3 linked regions of the Homo sapiens genome follow. The protein of the gene in region 2 interacts with the protein of the main gene of each other region in a pairwise test. Each region holds a gene or a part of one and is shown on either strand. Other genes may lie near its edges. The genes, in order: KCTD21, UFM1 and TSC22D2.

Region 1 (7,807 bases), on a different chromosome or scaffold from region 2:
AACCCCATCTCTACAAAAAAAAAAAAAAAAAATTACATCAATTAGCCAGGCGTAGTGTCTCACACCTGCAGTCCCAGCTAGTTGGGGCTGAGACAGGAGGCTCACTTGAGCTTGGGAGGCGAAGGTTGCAGTGAGCTGAGATCACGCCACTGCACTCCAGCCTGGGTGACTAAGTGAGTTCCTGTTTCAAAAAAGAAAAAAGAAAAAAAATTTTTTTAACTCTCCCTTCAGCCCTGGTCCCCTTTCTAGGCAGTGCCCGTGACAAGGCAGTTGCTGTGGCCAACCTCCCCCACACAAACAGTCCATCCTCCCAGACCCCTGGGATGGCTAGTGGATTTCATATGCTTTCAACCCAGGATGCCAAGAAATCCTGGTACTCAGGCAGCCAAGAAGAAACCCTAATCCATGAGGCACTGGCATCATGTGTGAAGCAAGAGGGCATGGGGGCAGGCAGAAATGGAGTTCTGGAGACAGGGAAGACTCTGGTAGTAGAAAGAGTACTAGAAAGAGTAGAAAGAGTATCAGACTAGGAATGAGGAGTCCTACATTCTAGCCCTGACTCATTGTGTGACCCTCAGTAAATCATACCCATGAGCCTCTTTTCTGTAAAATGGGGACAAATGCTATTAGACTGAACCGCATGAAACCGAATGATCAAATGTTGGCAATTTCATGTTGTTCTACCTAACACCACATAAGCCTGGCAGCTGACAGTTCAAATAGAGCTGCTCCATGAGAGCTCTGATCTCCAAGGCCAGCCGGCAGCCTCTGCTCAGTCCGTAGCCTGGCCACAGCAAGCAAGCCCTGCCCACCTGCCCCAACTCCCACGCAGGCAGTCTGAGGACAGCTGTCACCATGGTCACCAGCAAACCCACTCAATATCTTGCATGCACTCAGACAAAAGGGTTTTAGAGGCTTGCACCTCACCTGGCCCCATCAGGCCAGGGAAGGGAGGACAAGGCCAGCTATCCCACTGGCAGGAATGAAGAAAGTGAGGCTCAGAGAGAGGAACATGGCCTTGGCAAAGCAGGATTAGAACCTGCACTCTGCCTCCCTCAGGAGGGCTGGATTAGCCTGCTAAGCCCCGGGTGAGGAGATGGCCTGTCCATGCTGGCTCTGACTCAAGAGACAGCTGCCCCGCACCAACCGCAGCAGCAAACAGCAGCCATGTCCTCCCCGAGGAGAGCCTGTGTTAAAAGCTGAAGATACAGGTTTTCTGCTTCAAAGTCATGGTGACCTTGGGTGAGCCCCTGCCTGGCTTCTTAGCCTTCTCATCTGGAAAATGGGGACTATTCCAAGCCTACCATTCACAGGGTTGAGACAAGGTATAAAAAAGATGAGGTCCTCATTAACACGGTGAAACCCCATCTCTACTAAAAATACAAAAAATTAGCCGGGCGTGGTGGCGGGCACCTGTAGTCCCAGCTACTCAGGAGGCTGAGGCAGGAGAATGGCGTGAACCCAGGAGGCGGAGCTTGCAGTGAGCCGAGATCATGCCACTGCACTCCAGCCTGGGGGACAGAGCAAGACTCCGTCTCAAAAAAAAAAAAAAAAAAAAGATGAGGGCCGGGCTGTCATGAGTCTATTTTTGGGCCACCTGGCACTGATGGGAGACACAGATACTGTCAGGGAAAGGAGACAAGGAGACACGCACTGCTGATCCTGCTGATTCTCCAAGGCATTTCCTCCATTAGCCCTCCCTGCCACTTCGGTGTTCCCAGCCCCACCCAGGATCAGACCCCTTGACTTCTTGCCTGGACTAGTGCAGTAGCCTCCTAACCCATCTCCCAATTCCCTCCCTCAATCCATCCTCCAACAGAGGCATGTGTCCTAGAGGAGAACAGAGTCCAGGCTTCGAGTCTAGCCCAGCCACCATGGAGGTAGGTGTTCTTTTACCTCTGTGATCCTCGGAATGCCCAAATAGAAGGTGACTACGTGCCCACCCCTTAGCCTTTCCCAGCCAGCGCTGCTGCTCCTCCCAAGCCCTTGCCTCATACCCCTCGCCCTACTGGCATGACAGCCTGAGGGGCGTCCCAGCAACACCAGCACACTCCAAGGCACGCAGTGAGCACTCAGGAAAATCCCAATCCCTCTGCCAAAAGGCCCAGATCCTTTCACCTGTTCCTCTCGGATGACCCTCAACATTTCTGCCGAGTGTTGACTGATCTCTGCTCCTGCACAGTTGAGCCTGACTTATCTCCATCACCCCAAAGCACCCTGTGTGTGTGTGTGTATGTGTGTGTACACAACTCCTATGCTCAGCCCCACTGCCACGCCCTGGGCCCCCGCTCAAGCTTCATCATCCCTCCTTGGTCTCTCCAGATGCAGCATCGTCAGATGGAGCTTATTACACGGTAAGCACCATTCCGTCCATGCCCCTGCTCAGAACTCTCAACACTCTCCAGCCCCTTGGACCCAGAATAAGGTCCAAACTCCTGAGCCGGACATGCAAGCCCTTTCTGTGACACTCAGCTGATGTGGGGCAGGGGTGGAGATGAACTCAAGCAACATTGTTCAGTGGAGACTCTGCAGACATTGGAGCAGGGGGCTTTTTCCTGACTGCTACTTTGCACAATGTCCCCTCTACTGAAAAAGGGCTTTTCCCTCTTCTCTCCTGGAAAATTCTGACTCACCCTTCAATGCCCAGCTCACATGCCCTCTCCTCTGGGAAGCCTTTCCTTTTCCCTCCACAATTCAAGTGTCTAAAGTTCTGGCCTCCAAGGCCCTCTTAGCTATTCTCATCCCTCTGCAGCATAACTGGAATCCATGTCTCTGTCTCCCACCAGGCTGGGACCTCCCTTGGCAGAGGTCCAATCCCCGTCTCTGAGCCCAGTGCCCAGTACAGAACCAAGGACTGAGGTGTCCGTGAAGGTGCGTCAAGCAACTCATGAGAGACATGTGACAGCAAGATGAGAGAAAACCAAAGATGTAACCACAAAAGTACCTTCCAGAAACTGGCCTAACCTTTGGTCCAGTCACCACCCCCTCCTTTGCCCAGGCCTGGTCTTGCATATCAAAAACCCTGAAAATCTTAAACATCAGTCAAGAAAGCCCCTACAGAGGTCACTGGACTGGACTGAGGCTTTAGCCATTCTAGAAATTGTTCAAACAACCAAAGCAAAAGAAAAAGCACAAAACAAAAACAAAACAAAACAAAACAAAAATCTGTTCCTGGTTAGCCTTCAGGTCAAAAGCTCACAGAATCTCCTAGGACCTGAGAAGAAGGCTTCATGGTGTTACTCAACCTCTCCCTGCTCCAGGTCAGAGCAGCCCCTCCCAGCCTCTGCTCAGCACCTAAGAGCTGAGGAGCACATTTCCTCCCCTCTCTGACCCTCGAAGCCAGCCTCCCTCCTTTGACTCCCCTGGGAGCCAGAGCTTCCTTGGGGGTACCAGGCTGCCCCTCCCGACACCAGGTGGTGCCCTCCATCTCTGGCCCCTCAGGTGTCTGAATGGCAGCATCTCTCTAGGTATTTTTTAACTGAACTTCTACCCAAGGCAACCCTGGGAAGAAGTGCTTCACCCTACTCCGGGAGGCCCATGTCTGGGCCACCAAACTGTCTCCTGGAAAGAAAAAGAAAAAAGGGTTTCACTGGTAAAAAGCAGCTGCTCTTCCTCAAAGGATAAGGAGGAGAGAGAAGGGAAGAAAGCAGGAGCAGCTATTCCTCCTCAGGAACCCACCACACACACCTATCCCTGCGGGGCCACCCCTCACAAACCTGTGAGGGCCGCACTCCACCCCAAGCTTTCTGGAAGGAAGGGCACCAAGCTGACACATCAGGGTCTCCGGTTTGCAAGGGCCAGGGCCGTAAGAGGGGGTTGGGGAGGGTATCCCAGGGCCCAGCACACTGAGAATAGGAAAAGCCCATTCCAAGCAATGGTGGCCTCGGGCCCCCCAGTTTGTGCCACCTCCCTCCCTCCAGTGCACCCGCGCCCAGCCCACGCTTGAGCTGGAGGGCCCCACGAAAAGCCAGCAAGCGAATGTACTAGGTACTGGGTGCGAATGCCCTCTTACCTGAAAGGGGAGGGAGCAGGATCACTTCGACATACAATTGATGAAGGGAGGGGATTAATGCCCAGAGAGGAATAGCTACTCGCCCAAGGTCACACAGTGAGGCCCAGGAGGCCCAGGATGCACCCAGATCTCCCGACTCCCAGCCCTGGGCTCGCAAGTCCAGGGTTCTCGAAAGGCCAGGGTGCAGACACCGCCCCCCAAAGACAGTCACACGCCCCCAACCCCCTTACCTCCCGGACCCCGGTGGGCCAGAGCCGGCTGCTGGGCGGGGCGCTCAGGCCGGGCAGGACGAGGCTGGGCCCGGCTAGGTCAGGGCTGGTCCTCTGCTCCCCCCAGGGTGGGGACGCCCTCAGCCAGGTCCCAGACGGAAGAGATGCTGCTTCCACTGCAAAATCCAGTCTTCCCACCCCGCCTGGCACAAGCCTCTATGTATCCAGGAAGCCCGACTCTGCGGCGCGGCCCCGGGGCTGCGGGATGAAGCATGGGGAGGGGCGAGGTGCGTGAAATGGGGCGGAGCCGGAGCGGGGGCCACCCCGCGAGCTGCCACTCTGACCGCGTCCCCTTTAAGGCCAGCCGGCCGGACACCGGCGGGGACGAGGCGGGGCGCAGAGCAACTCGCTGCAATGCCTCCTGGGAGATGGAGTTCGCTCTCGACGCGCCGAGCTGCGAGGAGCCCAGAGAGAACTACCAGTCCCGGAAGGCAGCGCACAGACCCCGGACCGCCACGCCCCTGGGCTGGGCTCCTACCCTCCGCCCCCCTCGCAAAGCTGCGCTGGCCGCTCGCGGAGGGAGAGGCTGCAGAGCGAGGGCAGGAGGTGGGTGCGGCACGGCCGGGGTCGCGGGGCTCGGGGACTACCGGCGAGGGTACGTGGGCCCACTGAGCACCTGTCTTACCATGAGACTAATCTATCCCAGCCTCGCCATTCCCATCTGTGAAATGGGGATGGCATCGCCTGTGGTGCGGGGGAGGGGGCGCGTTTCGGAGCGAGGTGAGCCGAAGTGGGCAGAGCTCTTAGAGGGGCGGGGCTGTTGGGAGAGCAAGGGCGGATGGTGATAGTCGGAAAAGCCCGGATAATGAGGGTCGGGACTGTGGGAGGAGTCCTTGGTGGGTGGGGCAAGGAGAGGCGGGATCTCTAGGTGGGGGTGGGGCACTTGTCAGGTCGGAGTGGGGGCTGTAGGGCTGGGGAGTGGGTGCGGAACAAGCCGATGAGGCCAGCCTGGGTGAGATTGGGGAAGGAAGGGCGGAGACACAGATGACAGGGAACTTGCCCCGCTCTGGAGAGCCCTGGGCCGGCCGCGCTGTGGCGGCGTGGGCAAAAGCCTGTGATGCATAGAACACCTCCCTTTACTGACTGGAAATAAAGAGTCCATCCCCGAGTTCAGTGCGGCACACCAGTGATCTCATTGACCTCCCACGCCCTGAAAAGTAGAGGCGTCACTATAGCGGTTGACAGGTGAGGAATGTGAGGCTCAGAAAAGCGAAGGGACTTGCCTAAAACCACTCAGGACTCCTTACTTCAAAGACCTTGCTTTTCTCCCTGCACTCGGGGAGGCAGAGGTTTAGCTTGGCGTGGGAGGCAGGAAAGAAAAGTTTTGATGCCCCGACCTTCGCAAATTGTCTGGCAGGACCAGTCCCCCCAACCCTTCCGAATGACAGCCTGTAAGGCAGCCCTCCTATAGTACTGTGAGGATGAAATGAGATGGATTTGAAAGCACGGTGTTTATAAATTACTGTTTGGAGGAGACATAGGAAGAGAGCGGTTTGAAATGGGGTGCTGGTGCCGGAGGAAAAGCACAAGGTGAAGCGTGAGAGTGAGCCGAGAAGGTGAAGGAAAGTTCTGGAAGGGGCTGGGGGATGGTAGTGGTTGTTGGAGGTCTACGCCAGATGAAAGAATACCTTGCCGTGCCAGATTCCGTGGTCTCCTTCTTCCAGCCCACCTTTCTCTCCTCCTGCCTTTTGCGCAGCTCATTCTGGGGTCCCTGTGTCTAGGAAGCACCTTTTCTCTCCTCCCTATGGGTTGTGATGGTAATAGAGCAGCCTTCGGATTTCTTAGAGATATGGACTGGGCAAGACAGAATTATAGACGCAGCTCTTTGATGTGGGGTGGTCAGGAAGAGGAGGTGAAGAAAGGGTAGTCGTCCTAGGGGCTTCAAGGCAAAGAGTCCTTTCTCCGGTGGGGTAAGGTGGGGAAGTCTCCCACTTACTGGAAAACACAGTACTCACTCTGAGCATTGTCTTTTTTGAAATTTACCCAGCCACGTGCTGTCCATTCCCTTACGCAGTGGAAACTCTCCTTGCATTTACTCCCAAGTAATCACCTCGGCCTTGTCACATCCCTTTAGATTCCAGATTGAAAATTGAACAGAGCATTTCAAAATTAAAAAGTTTTGAAAATCCAGGTGGGGAAAATGGATCTGACTAAACAGGAGAGAAATTTCTTCCTCTTCCCCTATTCTACGTGCTTCTGTGGATATAGAAAGGGGCACCCCCAGCCCCAGCAAGGGAGCCAGGCATCCATCTACTTAAGTAAAGTTGGCTGTGGTAAGGGGTTAGACTAAAATTCTCCGCAGATGCAGAGGAGAAGGAATGAATTCCAGCTGAGAGACCTGGCCGATGCATGGGATTTGTCTTCAAGGTCCAGGCAGAGGGGATGGCAGATGCCAAATTGCAGAAGTCGAAGAGGGCCCAGTATGGTTGGTCTGTAAAGTAGGTATATAATAGTATCTACTTAATCTGTGAGATTGAAAGAGATTAACATGTATAGAGTGCCTAGCACGGTAGTAACTGCTCAATAAACGTTAGCCATTATTATTGCCGTTGTAGTGTTTGTTGTTGTTATGATCATCATCATCTGCCCAGGAACGTGCCCAGGGCTGCACAGCTAGTAAGTGGCAGGGGATGATTCAAATGCAAACCCAGGTAATGCCGAATACCATGCATGGTCTGCCCCTACCCCACACAGCCTCTCCAGTTCTTTTCTTTTTTTTTTTTTTTTTTTTTTTTTTTTTTTTTTTTGAGACAGGGTCTTACTCTGTTGCCCAAGCTGGAGTGCAGTGGCGTGATCTCGGCTTGCTGCAGCCTGACCTCCCAGGCTCAAGCGATCCTCCTACCTCAGCCTGTGCAGCTGGGACTGCAAGCACGTGTTACCATGCCCAGCTAATTTTTTTTTTTCTCTATAGAAACGAGGTCTCATTATGTTGTCCAGGTGGTCTCAAACTCCTGAACTCAAGCGATCCTCCCACCTGGGCCTTCCAAGTGCTGGGATTACAGGCATGAGCCACTGAGCCTGGCCTGTCTCCAGTTCTTTCTGCCCATCCTTGACATTTCTGAGGCCCAGGAGTGGCCTCTCTTTGTCAACATTCACAGTGAGTCATGACAGGAGTTTCTTTCCTGCCGAGTTACAGAGATTCTGGGTTCATGATGAGGCAGGAAAAACAAGGCCTGAACAGCCATCTTCTTCCAGGCAGAATCACAGCACAGAAGATAGGCAGACCTGGCCGGGCGCGGTGGCTCACGCCTGTAATCCCAGCACTTTGGGAGGCTGAGGTGGGTGGATCATTTGAGGTCAGGAGCTTGAGACCAGCCTGGCCAACGTGGTGAAACCCCGTCTCTACTAAAAATACAAAAATTAGCCGGGCATGGTGGCACGCACCTGAAATCCCAGCTACTCAGGAGGCTGAGGCAGGAGAATCACTTGAACCTGGGAGGCAGAGGTCGCAGTGAGCCAGGATCACGCCACTGCACTCCAAACTGGGTGACAGAGCGAGACTCTATCTCAAAAAAAAAAAATAGGC
Region 2 (7,095 bases):
CTCTGCTGAAGGATGTTGAAAATGTGAGAGGCTATGAATATATAGGGATAGGAAGTATCTTTATCTGCTCAATTTTGCTGTGAACCTAAAACTGCTCTAAAAAATAAAGTCTATAAAAAAATACTCTGGGCTGGAGAAAGGAGGAGAAGAAAATGATAAACATTGTAAGGTCTCCCCGAAATATGGCCCTATTCCTTCATCCCTAGGGAAACAATCTCTAGGGAATTTCAGAATCAGAGAAAAGATGCCCAGTTCCTGCTCCCATTGAAGCCCAGGAAGACAACAAAGTTCCCTTCATTCTAGGGAGAAAACATGTTATCTTTAGTCAAAGATGTCTGAGCTCTTCTGGGTTCCCTATAGCCACAGGGTGGTACAAGAGGGCACTTTTCTTACATCCCTTAGAGACAACAAACAGTCCTAAAGTCGTCTTGCCAGCACACAAAAAGGAGTGATATCACCAGACAAAAATGAGATGTCATGTGTCTCAGATGTTTGGAGTGGACACAAATATCACTGAGAATATGGAGAGATGATGACAAAGGACCAGACGTCACAGTCCTCTGAAGCCTGTATTCTACATAAAACTGCAAGAAGAGTCATGTGGGGAGAAACTACAAATGGATCTAAAAATCTCAACTTGAATCAGAAAACCTTAAGTTAATAGAGAAAAGTAAAAATAGAACATTAATATTTACCTCATTTAGCTGGTGGAAGGATAAAAATATGTAAATGTGGAAAAAAAAAACTCATGGTTGAAATGGATTTGTCAGAGGCTACTTCAGTTTTTCTAAAAGTAATGTTTCCATTAAATGAAGAATTCGCACAATATTTAGAGAGAAAATTTAATTATACCAGACTGTTAAATTCCTGTTTTTCACAGTTCAAAATGCCATTTTGTAATAAAGATATTTTACAAATTCTGTGGTTAAAATATTCCACGTTTTGTGATTAAGCCTCAAATTTAGAAACATTGTAGTCAATGAGCTTCGTAGAAAAGTCATTTCTTTTTCTCACTGAATTTTAGAAAATATTTGGGAAAAATATGTAACTGTAACAATCAAATGTAGCACATTTAGAGCTATAGTCTTCTGTAAGGGCTTGCCTGGACTTGCTAGGCTCCGATCTCACCTGGGTTTCATTGTTCTTTTTGACTCAAAGGAATGTAAATATTCTCTAACCTTCTAGTCCTTACCTTGAAAAATAACACAGCATTTACATATTCCCAAGTACTTCTGTAACCAAATCCACTCTCTCCTCTTTGTATAAGGCTTCTTGTCACTAAATTATGACTTATAGCCAAGGCATCAAAGTTTAAAGTCTATATTTTGTCATTGATTTGTACAAAGTGGTTAATACCAGCCAAAAATAAATCTTAATGAATTTTGAGTCATTATTATCATTGCTTCAATTATATCAATGCCTTTTAGTGGATTTTGAGGGGAGAAAAGGCAATAGAAAAAAATGAACAAATTAAAGTACTATTAAAATACCAGTCAATTATTAATTGATCAGTCTATAATTTGTTCCCTGTAATATAAAGTATTTGGAATAGAACACCTTAAGATTTATTCAGGTGCAGATGTTTCAAGATTACATAATTTGACTATCAGATGGTTCTAGTCATAATCGTAAATACAATCAAATTATGGTGAAAATGAAAGAATTTTTTTTGGCATCCAGAGGAATATAAAAAATAAAGTTGGCTATAAAAATAACTAGTCAGAAGAATTTCTATGACTATGGAAGCAAATCTTTTTAGTCCTTATGTAAATTTAATTTCCTTCTGGCTTTCTTCTAATAATGGGAAATTTATATGCATTTGCAAATAGAATATTGGTATGCTTCATTGACATTTAATGAGGTCTAACATGGTCACACTGTGCACTTCTACAGTCATTTCTGCCTCTACATGATACTAATTGGATCTTTTCCAAAACACATTAGGCCATTTATGCTATTTGTTGTCTTAAAATGTTCCATTGCCAATTATCTCCAAAAATTTGCTCCAGAGTTTGCTTCTGATTACAGCCATTAAACGTACTTCAACATTTTAACTTTTCAGTAAAAGAGAAGGTCCTTGTTTTGCTATAAAATTTTCCAATTGCAAATCCCTTCACAAAGTTAAAAAAATTGATTATAAATAAATCCATTTATAATTTCTTTCTTGTCCTAAGCAAAATAAAACTCAGGAGGCTGCAGAAATCATGCTGTGACTCTGAGGAGACAAACATGAGAAGCAGAGTTGGGGACTGAGGTGAAAAAGAATTCTAAATATTTAGAAACAGCTGCTTTTTAATATCTCAAGAGATGTTATTTTGATATATTATACAAATGTATTTTCTGAAGCAGCAGAATCTGAGTACTAAAGTCACACTGTGGGACTGAATTCTGTTTTCACCACTTTTTATACATACAATAAAAGCTCTCTGATTAATATCCATTTTTCTCTTTAGGATTTTGCCACGTTTTGATTCATGAGCAGAAACCAAACTATAAATAGCAGGATGCAAATTTTGTTTCAAAATATATTATATGTAGTCTTATAGACTGTAAATATGTACACTCATCTCTTTCATTATTATTTGGCTAGCTGACAATAGGTAGACACAATCACAGTTTTATCCTTATTACTATTCTCACAAGTTTTAGTCACACCCACTAATTGAATAGTTTCAGCTATTAAGGCTGTAACTGTTGATCCCTGTATCTGTCAATCAATATTTGGCTTCATCTACATATATGGTAAGACCATTATTTTAAAAAGTGAGGATGGCTGTCATGAGAATGTTGGAGTCTTACTTGCCTACTCAGAACCAGAACTCTCTCCACTGGGAAATGTCACCATAGAAGATCAGTTGGCTGCAAAATTATTGTAAAGATGAATTTGATCTCCATTATCCCTACTACAGTTCCTTCCTGGTTCCTCTCTTAAGTATCTCTCCTTAAGAATCTGATGCATATTCTAAAGATCAACTAGATTGCCCCATTATTTTAATGCCTACCTGCTTCCTCCTTTGTCTATTCATGCTAATGTTTTAAAAGGGCATTTCAGTCATTGTGAGACAGACGCATATTTTCCAAACACAGAGGTTTAGATCTGTAATAAAGTTTAGAGGACAATTTTCTTCCGTCATCACTACACAGGATGTTAGATCCTAGAGAGTTGACGCCTACCTGCCTTACTCATCTTGGATTCCCCAGAGTTTAGCTTAGCGCCGGGCAAATAGAAAGGGTTCAAAGTTGGTTGTTAAATTGAATAAATGTGGTCAGTGATTAGCAACTCAGCGCACTGGTTTAATTAGACCATATAACAAATTACTGAAATCTCCTGTTCATAGATGTGTCTTCCCAACTAGACGCCACGTTCCCCAAACGTAGAAACCTCATTTTTTCTCACCCACCCCAGCGGGAGTCTTGGCATAGATAATTCGTACTTGATAGCTCTCTTACTTAACCGAAATTCAATAGTTATAAATCAGTATCGGAAAGTAAAGCGTGAAGGAGAAACTATGAGAAATGTAAAGGATATAACAGGATTGGTTTGCTGGAAAGACGGAAGAAAACTAATGATAAAGCAGTGTTACAATTCCTGCTTCTGGAGCACCAATTAAGCTTTTCCGCGCTCAGGTTGCCTTAGAAACTTTAGAGCGCGTCCGCCCCAGCCCCGCCCCCGGCCTCGCCCCGAGCTTCGCCCCAAGTCCATCTCGCTCTTCATCCGACTACCCCATACCCTTACTTCCGCCCCAACCTGCCAACTGGAACCTAGGGTCCTACGCTCTATGCCCACGCTTATTCTGCCTGACTAAAAATATGGTAGCAAATTACCAAAGTTAGAAAGATATCTTATAAATATAATCCATACTTTTTTCTTAGATATATAAACGCAAAAGCACAAGATATTTGTAATTTAAAAGCGCCATCTAGCATGAGCTCTTAGGGCCAATTTTCAGGCAGTGCGTTGGATAGCAACAACTTCGGAGGTCCCCAGATTGCAGAGGGAGACGTGGACGTGAGTGGAGCGGGGCGGTCCCCAGCACACTAGAGGAAGTCGTGCTACCCCCGCGGAGTTGTCGTGTGTTCTGGATTCATTCCGGCACCACCATGTAAGTGTTTGCTTACCGACTGCCATAATTCCTGGTCCAGCTGCCCGACCCTGACTCTCTCCCGCTCTTTTCCTCAGGTCGAAGGTTTCCTTTAAGATCACGCTGACGTCGGACCCACGGCTGCCGTACAAAGTGTGAGTAGCTCGGCCGAGATGGGCCTTTTGGGGCCGGACAAGACGGGGCTGGGTTGGGGATGATCCGAGCTTTTCCAACAACTACCCCACGCAGTCTTCATCTCTTCACTTCATCTACTTTCCTGGCTCGCGCCCTTCCAGGAGCCTTTCCCACCGGAGCCTGCGAGGAGAGGTCCGTACTTGCTCGCTAAGTGTCAGCTTGGCAGCTTGGCCCCGTCACGAGGGTGTGGGTGTGTTTCTGATTAGTGACCTCCCCTCGGAATTCATTTGGTGGGCAGGTGGCGCGGGAGGACAGGTGGACCAGGTTCTGGTAATTTGTTGGGATTCTTAAACAGTCCCCATCTGCTGGATATTAGAAAAGCGTTTCACCGCTTTGGCCAGCTGGTTGAGGAAGTTAAGGAAGACATTCCATCTTGATAGTCAAGACTTTGAAATTACTTGAACATTTGTTATTCCGCGGCTTCTGAGTTTCGTTGTGTATGAGTAACTCAGCAGTCGGGCATCACAAAGTAATGAGACTCAGATCACACCCTTCCTATGCTGGGATTTAATAGAGTATTTGGTAGGAATGGGAAATGCAGATAGGGGATAGTTTATCCATGTGGGGCCTTTACTTATCCTTCGCAGTTGAGTGATAGATTTTAAGTAAACACTCTTGAGGTTATTGCAGTTGGAAGTAGCATGAAATGTAGCAAAGAACAGGATTACAATAGAATTTTTTGCATAATTAATTAGTACCTTGGCCTACCTAGCTGACTGATAAATTTCAATGATTTACCAATCCATGATCCGTACAACCTCTCAGCCTTTTCCTCCCTTGATCTTTTCATCTCCAAAATATCCCTGTTACACTTTATCTCAGGTGTTCATGGTTGCAGCCTAGAACCTTAAGATTCCAATAATTGCTCCATCTCTGAGATGTCGTTTACAGGCACTCTTATGGATAAATACATTCTCTCCTACATGATTTACTATAATTTCTCATCTACAACGTTTCATTTAATCCATTAATCACAGTGATTTTTTATCTGTAGCTATCCCCACTTCTATTCCTTACCTTACTCCTTATATAGTTAAGAGTCCATTGGTCCACCTTTAAATCATTCTCATGCAAACACCCTCAACTCTGGTGGCCCTGTCTCTCCTCTCAGCATATTTTGGTTAGTGAAACACCAACTCTGAAACCAGCTGTTTGTATTATCTGTACATAGCTGACTGCCCCTGGAGAAAATAACAGACTGGAGGGTTTACATTAAATTCATGACTACAATTAATAGTACCTAGTACTTAATACATTCTTCAAGTTTGCTCATTTTCCTCCTTATTCTCAGAAAAGATTGTTTAAAAATTTCAAACTTTCCACAGCTGCTGTCTCCCTTGCTATCAAGCCATCAGAGGGAAATTCTATCATCTTTACACCAATGTAAACCTACCACTACATGGATAAATCCGTTAATTTCCCATCCTGTTAGAATGGAAAAAATGACTTCACTCCTATGAAAAACCACTTGAGCTATAGTTCCCATCTATTTCAGTCTTGTCAAGGTTAAAGTAGATGGAGTCCAGTGCCCCCTCTCTCCTCATGATTGGTTTTTCCCTTTCTACTGGATTATTCTCATCAATATGCAAATGTACTCGAAAGAGAGCGTGAGAAGGAAGGAAGAAAATGATAGAGTAGGACAATAACATTAAGAGCCTGGAACATTGTACCAGTTCAGTTAATATGTGGTGACTGAATGAATTTAGTAGGTACAACTGTTGTTTAGTATGTATGTGTGCGTGTGTAGTTGTGTGTGTATGTGTATAAGGATGTGTGTGTGGAAAATTCACATAACGTGTAAATGTGTGTACAAGGGTATCTGTGCTATATTTTCTTTTCAAAGTACATGGTAACTAGTACTTGGGTACTTGACAAGCTTGCCCTTTTAATCTTTGCTTCCTTTACACATGTTCTTTTCTGTGCTTAGAATGCAGTCTCATGATCACAACATATTTTATAGTAATAAAAATCTCACCTCTATGAAGTTTGTTTTTTTTTCTTTCTTTCTTTTTTTTTTTTTTTTTGTGAAACAAAGTCTCGCTCTGTTGCCCAGGTTGGAGTGCAGTGGCACGATCTTGGCTCACTGCAACGCCCGCCTTCCCAGTTCTTCTCCTTCCTCAGCCTCCCAAATAGCTGGGACCACAGGTGTGTGCCACCTTGCCCAGCTAATTTTTTGTATTTTTAGTAGAGACGGGGTGTCACTGTGTTAGCCAGGATGGTTTCCATCTCCTGACCTCGTGATCTGCCCACCTCGGCCTCCCAAAGTTCTGGGATTATAGGCGTGAGCCACCCCTTCTGGCCAAAGATTTTTCTAATTGTCCACAGAGTTAATCTCGCCCTTCTTGAGTTACCTGTGGACTTAGTCTTTATAATAATTCTTACCAATTTATGTTATTATTTTGTTTATATATTTATTTAAAAAACAAATGATGCCAGTAATTTACTTCAAAAATTCTCATTAATGTAAATTTATTCAAAACACTGGGATAATTTAAGTACCGATTTTATGAAATGACTGGCAAATACAACTTTAAATCTAGATAAGATCTGTGGAGTCACTGTAACTCTCATTTTTTCTAATTTTCTGCCAGTTAGAACTTGCATTAAAAGATGTTTTCATTTTTGATTTGTTTTTATTGGCTTGTCTGTGGACACTCACCAACTTAATATACAGATAGAAACTTATTTTAATGAGCATCAGTATGACATCTAGGTATATTGTAAGGACATTTCCAAGTCTCCGATTTAAAAGTGAATTGAACTCCAAGGGTTTAGAAGTTCTCCAATTGATGCAGAGTTTTAGGAAAATGAATCTCAG
Region 3 (7,108 bases), on a different chromosome or scaffold from region 2:
GCTATTCCTGTTGATGGTGATGAAGACAGGTATGGAAATCTCTATTTTAAATATTTGATAGAAATGCTTGGCCAACATTGTAGCTTAGGATGCAACTTTGGGAGATTGTTGTCAACGGAGGCCCTTAGCATTTTTAAATACAAAATTTAGTTTTTGGTAAAATTGATTTAGATTGCTGATGCTGATGTCAAAGGGTGTAATGAGCGAATTGGTCTTGTCACCGTTGTTTAAAAGCACTAAAATGGGTAGGGATGCAACATTGTTTACTCAAAAAAAGGTGAATTTAAGCTTAATGCTTACCATTTAATGGTGGTAGCTAGTGTGTTATGCTCCCATAGAATTGTCCTTTTCTTACATATCAATCACACTTGAACACGTAAGGCAGAGAGATTTGTCAGTGTGAGTTTTGAGGCTGAGACATAATAATACTACAAGTTTTCCTTTCTGGAAAACCAGAAGGTCCTCTAGTGAAAAAAAAAATCTATGTAAGGAATCTTCTCCAGTGTATCTGGAAAGGCTGGAGACATAATGGTGAAATGTCAAATCCGGCTTTGAAGATCATACTTAGTTCAGCCTTTTGATTAAAGGAGGTACAAGGTCACGAGTCTTCCCAGGGACTTCTCTAAGATACTATTTTTTTGTTGTTAAGCAAAAAATGTACTGGAAAGATATTCTTACTTTCCATCAGTCTATTTATTATAGGAAAGGGAGGTTGAGATCGATCCTTTAACTGTAGTGAAAGCTATAGTTCTTGAAATTAAGAGTAATTTTATAATAAAAGTGTAAATGTTAATAATTGGCTCCCTGTATTTAGGGATGCTTTTTTTAATGGCCTAAATAAGAATTAGTGTATTGCTACACCAGTGCCACAACAGCTGATGTTTGGTTATGGTTTAGTGAGGATTTTTGTGGTTTTGAGGAGATGTCACATGTAAATTTGACATACATATTGCAAAATTTTAAAAGCTGACTTGTTGCAATGTTTTAAAATTATATTTAAAAATTATAGAAAAAGTTTCAGGAATTTCACAGTTAGACATTTCTTTGCTGGGGTTTTTGTTTAGCGAGAGGCTAATTTTAGGTGTTTTTAAAAGATACAAACTAATATTATGGATTTCCAGAATAATTAGTATGTGGAAGAATACAATGACATGTATGTTAAAGCTTTCTCTTCCTATGGTTTCTTCTGAGTTCCTTCACATTTCTTAACCTCCCATTTCTAATTAGCCTTGTATTTTTGTTATATACTTCTGTTGGTTTGAAAAATACTCACTGACTGAAATTCATTCATCTTCTCTGCTTTTTGTAATTTAAAGTTCATCTTTTTTTGTAGGTGACTTGCTTATGGGGAGTCTTTCTTCACTTGAGAACGCTTAGAGAATACCACGTGTCCATAAGTGAGCTCAGCTAGCTAGTCATTGAGAAATTTTGTGTGTGTGGGACTACTAAGTAAACTGACTCCACAAGCCACTCAGAAAAATCCCTCTACTTTTATAGTTGCTCCCATTGTCACACACAGGGACACACCTGTAACACAGATTGAGTTTATTTTTTCACCTTTGGTAATAATCAACAGGCATCTTCACTTTTCTAGCTGCCACAAGCCAATTTTTTCCTGATAAGTTGGCAAATAACCTTTTGCTTTCCTCTGTTCCTGTATACTGCCCATATCTCTTCAAGAAATGATGACTGGTTTCCTGAGCTACCCCGCTTTCTATACACACACACACCCCTCCACCCGAGAATGCAGATTACATTTTCCCTTCTGTGCACACCTCTCTCAGTTTACAGCATCCATACTTAGATTCCTCAGAACTTTAGTACGATGATAAGGCATGAAGCAGAGACTTCTGTTGATAGATGGAAACTGAAATGTATTCTTTAGGGTATGACATCAAAAATGCATTTATTTTTTCCTCTTACTGTATTAAGAGTTGGTAATCTGAAAACTCTGATTTCCAAATTTGTGAATGGTTGAACTACAGATACTACTGTATCAGTGTTCTTACCAATTGCAACAGTTAATTCAGTGCAGGGGTTTTGATGTATGTACAGTCCTATTTTAAACATGACACTTCCCTCCCTTGCCCCAATCATTTAAAATCTACATTGCTTACCAATGTTCATTTCTGATTTTTGTTACAGTCTTTCATTGGTTTTTAACTTGACATGCTAGTTTCCAAGATGTAATCTTACACATTTGACTGTTTTGTCACTGGTCCAACATACCTGGTGAAGGAATAAATCCATTAGGTAGAAATAGTTGGGTTTTTTGTTTTGTGTTTTTTTTTTTTAATAGAAAGCTTTGGTTAAAAAAAAAAAAAAGAACAGGGTATTTTAAAATTTTGTGTTTGAAATTAAATAACAGTTTTCCAGGCATATGTTTAAATTACTGAGATGAGTACTTTTGAGGAGACTACTATCTTAACTGAAAATTTTAATTTTAATGTGATTTTGGGTTGCCGCCTTAAAATCTGCATGTTTTCAAATTTGAAATAAAACCAACTGGAGTGAGAGGTCTTGACTAATTGTGATTTAAACTTTGCAAGTAGTTTGACAAATTTCAGATCCTAAGGAAATATTTGTAAATAAGATATATGCTTTTTTTAAAAAAAAATTAGGACTTTAGTAAACAGTCTATTTCTTTGAGAAAAGAAAGGAAAATGGGAAATTAACAAAAAGATTGAGGTGGTTTAGGTTGATACATTGAAAACTCTTATCTTGAGATTTTGGTTCCATTACCTAATGCAAAGTTCTATATTGGCTTAATTTTGAGATCATTTATAATTAAAGAACCGGGCCTTATAGTAATACATCTTAATATTATCACACCTTTAAAAGGCTGATGGTTGTATATGCAAAAAGTTCTCAATTAGCATTGCCTATTGACTCTACATTATTAATTACCATAAAGTTTATCTTTCTGGCCATTTTCATTAGAAAGGTTTATGGTCAGTTGTTGAGACTCTTCAGATTGATTTTGTGTAAACTCGTGGATGTGATGGTTGAAAATACAGTCCTTAAATATGTAGCTACTTTTATAGTGAACTTTACAAAACTTGTTTAAACTACGTACACACTTAACAGTCTCCTGTAAATGAGAGGAGGTGCAAAATATTACTGGCCCTTTTGGAAAAGGAACACAGTACAGATCACTTTCCATAGATAGCCAACCAATGTGAACTCTGTAGGCCGCATTCCAGGAACTCTTATGAATGGCTGCAATTGTGAGCTGTCATCTGTGGCCAAAAGACTGTTGAAAACCTGATTCTAAGGATCCTTTGGTGGCAGATATTTCTATGTCTTGTTAATGGTTTTATTTGTGTGGTTTGCTAATGATCACTGATAAAATATTATACATTGTGAATGTTAAGTGGTGTGTCCTGGTATGTGCCATAAATACACATTTTGTTTGTACATTTATATATATTTTAAACCAAATTCTGCTGCTTTTTTTACTTGAAGTTTAAGTGAGAGGATTAAGTAAATGTATACCAGGAGGCAGAACTGTCTCAGTCTTCGACCTCTGTTGTATGAAAGTCTCACTGAATTGAAGTCTCTAAAGATGGAAATTTCTTACTTGAATCTCTGTTTCTTGGAAGCTGACATTTATCTGTTAAATTGTGAAGGTAATTTTGCTCTTGTAGGTTTACAGTTGATGTCTGAATCACATACTAGATACTATCCTATGCCTATCTACACGTTTAAGAGTGTTCTTACTGAGGAGTTAGTAGTAAAAATGTAAATTCGTATATATGTGTCATTATTGTTTAGCATAAAAACTGATACTGATGTATTCATCAGGGATTACTGATGGATACCACATGGATTACTAAAACATACTTTATTCATAAACGTGGCTTGAAATAAAAGAAATGACAGATTTCCAAAAAGGCTTACGATTTTCCAAACTACCCGAAATTCCTAAACCATGAGCTATATCTGTAGGAGTGTGGCCTTTTATATTCACAGTGACACATACTGTATAAAATTTTATGTGCACTAAATCATATAGGCCAAACATTGGTAAATTTTTTTAGAAAACATGATGGCTTATATGTGTGTGAATAATACAGATTTCCAGCTGACTATTTTAGTAACACTTGTTTTTTCTTTTTAGGAGATCACAACCCCTGAACTAAATCACCTTTATGAGAAGTCATTTTATATAGGACTGGTGGTAGGGGTATATATGTCCTCTACTTCCTGAGAATAAATATAATGCCAATTCATTTGTTATTTAAGAATCCTGGGCCAGGAGCGGTAGCTCATGCCTTGTAATCCTGGCACTTTGAGAGACCAAGGTCAGAGGATTGCTTGATGCCAGGAGTTGGAGACCAGCCTGGGCAACATAGCGAGGCTTTGTCTCTACAAAACATTTAAAAATTAGCCAGGTCTGGAGGCCAACACCTATAGTCTTAGCTACTTGGGGAGGCTGTAGGAGGAGGATTGCTTGAGCCCAGGAGCTGGAGGCTACAGTGAGCTATATTATAATATTGCACTGAAGCCTGGGCCACACAGCAAGGACCTGTCTGTAAAAAGAAAAAAAATAATTCTGATAGCACTAATTTGGAAATAGTGAAATATGGTACTGGATCTATGAATCTGGTACTTCCTAATTAGGAATGGGAGTCTATCTTTCTCTGCACCAGAAAAGATCAGAAGCAGTTATGAACAAATAGCAGCCCCACCAATCAAGTAGTAGAGAAACCCAAATAAATCTGTTTCCTAATAAAGGAATGGTAGTTAGGAAAGTATAAAAGGAATCTGACCTTCCTTTCCTAAAATGGCAGGAGTTGGGGAAGGGGAAGTGTAGAATGATAGCAGATAATCAAAATGGAAGAAAGTACAGTGGAGTGGCATGAAATATAGTCTCAAAAGAAATAGGAACACTTGTGAATACTGAGGAATGGTGTTCTAATTCTTTCTTTGAAGAATTGTTTTAGTCCAGTGTGTATTTCCTTTTCTGAAGATTCTGTTTATTTCTTAATTGCATTACTCGTTAAATACTTAAAGTATGAGGAAGGAGAGGCCTTACAAAAGCAGGTCTGTCTGGTTAAACATAGCCTGAATGATATTCCGTAAGTAATTCCTTAAATTGGAAAAGCAGATTTTTGGTAAGAAATATTAATCATATTTAAGGAGTATGTGTAGCAAAACTCCTAAATTAGAATAAATTATTTAAGTGTATGGTTTTTCTTTATACTAAACCAGTGGGCTTGTGATTTGAGGCTACTGTTTTCGATGGTATTGTATTGAGTCCACAGAGAATATGTATACCTGAATCATTGGTATAATGTCTTTCCCACAGCAATTCTTGAACATATCAAATTACTCGATATTTGTTATATTCTTAATCTGGCATTGCTTAGGGCAAAAACTGGGTGTCCCTCATAAAAAGGTAGGAACAGTAGCCAGTTTGCACCATTCCTATACATTATTCCATGACTTTAGGAAGTATACTTTGAGGTATACTCTTCAGATTTGGTTTAATAATATTAAAGGTATATTGATGGATTGTTTCCTGTATGAAAGTATTGCATGATTTCTGCTCTTAAATCAGGTGAATTAAATTTCATCTGGATTGCTTATCTCAAATTTAAAGCCTCAAATCAGACTTAAATAATTAGTATTTAGTATTTAGTTTGATTCCTTTGTACCCAAGCTAATTTTTGTTTAAAAAGAAAAAGTGCTTCCATCCTTTTAAGTAGTACATTTATTTGTGATGTTAGTGAAAGTTCTGCAGGTAACTGAGTTAATTTTATTAGTGTTTGCCTGGGACATATACCTATTATTAGGGTAGGCAGGACAAATAAGTAAAGTCTAAATGTTAAATTACTTAAAGCTTCTTTTCCCATAAGCCTTTCCTAAAATTTGTCTAAAGAATATTGCTTTGTAGAAGATGGAGTTTGTGATTAATGTGTCAATTATTGTAAATAATGATGGCATAGTTTTAAATGTTAGTTTTAGGCTGTTCATCTTATTACACAAGTATATAATTTAATCTGAATAAAGGATTCCCAAAGGTAAGTGTAAAGCCTCTAGTTTCTAAAGTAGAGTTAGTATTTAGTTTTTATCAAGTGGTTTTATATGTTAAAGCAAAACAAATCTTTGCTTGGCATACCGTCTACCTAGTCTTTGAAGACAAAACAAAGGAGGGAGGAGCTGTTTTGATCAAATAAAACCAATAGCGTGTTTAATTATGTGTTAACATATGTGAATGACCATTACAGAGACAGTAGAGTCAGACATACCCGGGCTAAAATCTAACTGCTACATTTGACTTTGAGCTAGTTGGTGTAGATGCCTTGTTTCCTCTTATGAAAAATGGGGATTGTACCTACCTGGGAGAGTTTTAAGGAATTAAATGATGTGTGCAAGTAATTTGAACAGTCTGTAACATAATATATGTGGCAAACGTGTATCACAGAAATGTTAATATTTCAGTGTCCAAACTGCTCTCCCAGATCACCCCTTTACATGTTATAAATCATACCAAGAATCTTCCATTTTAATATGAAAGCGTAATTGTATGGTATGGATGTAGTCAGAAAAAAGGAGATGATGTTTTAGTCTAGACGAGTCATGATGTTGTAAGAAGTATAGGGAATTGTGTTCCAGTCCTGGCTCTTCTATCATTTAGCTGGTTTCTTTGGTCAAGTCATTTCACTTGTCTGTTTTTCTTTTTTGAGACTTTGTCAAATTTTAAGATTCCTTCTAGCCTTATGTATATGAGACCATACATTCAAGTGTGCTTCATGAGAGAACTGCAAACTTAAACTTTCTTCTTTTTACCCCTTTCCTGCCACTTGACTATTGTGTGGCAATAAATGAAGTTTGTAAATACTCATTAAGTAGGTTGATTGCCCAAGAAAACATTTAAAACAGCTTATCAGTCATTCAGCTTTCATGATGCTCTGTGAGTAGTGAGCACTGGAATACAAATATGAGACTATGCTGCCCTCCTAGATCTCAGGCATTTTCATCATCATGAAAATGATGATCAGATGTATACTTTGACATACATTGGAGGTGGTGATGGAGTAATATAAGGTGCTAATGGGAACAATTTGAGACATCAGATCAGATTGGGATTGGGAGGGTAGTA

What was found.
Region 1: the proteins of UFM1 (region 2) and KCTD21 interact in binary tests that used the Homo sapiens proteins (3 or more experiments, as listed by UniProt).
Region 3: the proteins of UFM1 (region 2) and TSC22D2 interact in a two-hybrid assay, tested with the Homo sapiens proteins (one study listed by BioGRID).

Annotation. Positions count from the first base shown.
Region 1 is NC_000011.10:78,185,593-78,193,399, reverse strand, and holds the start of KCTD21 (BTB/POZ domain-containing protein KCTD21), read left to right. Parts: upstream 1-4,773; 5' UTR 4,774-4,827; exon of another isoform or gene 4,828-4,876; intron 4,877-7,807. UniProt on the Homo sapiens protein: Probable substrate-specific adapter of a BCR (BTB-CUL3-RBX1) E3 ubiquitin-protein ligase complex mediating the ubiquitination and subsequent proteasomal degradation of target proteins. Promotes the ubiquitination of HDAC1.
Region 2 is NC_000013.11:38,345,819-38,352,913, forward strand, and holds the start of UFM1 (ubiquitin-fold modifier 1), read left to right. Parts: upstream 1-4,032; 5' UTR 4,033-4,101; coding exon 4,102-4,103; intron 4,104-4,180; coding exon 4,181-4,237; exon of another isoform or gene 4,238-4,296; coding exon of another isoform or gene 4,297-4,409; intron 4,410-7,095. UniProt on the Homo sapiens protein: Ubiquitin-like modifier which can be covalently attached via an isopeptide bond to lysine residues of substrate proteins as a monomer or a lysine-linked polymer.
Region 3 is NC_000003.12:150,411,280-150,418,387, forward strand, and holds part of TSC22D2 (TSC22 domain family protein 2), read left to right. Parts: coding exon 1-29; intron 30-7,108. UniProt on the Homo sapiens protein: Reduces the level of nuclear PKM isoform M2 which results in repression of cyclin CCND1 transcription and reduced cell growth.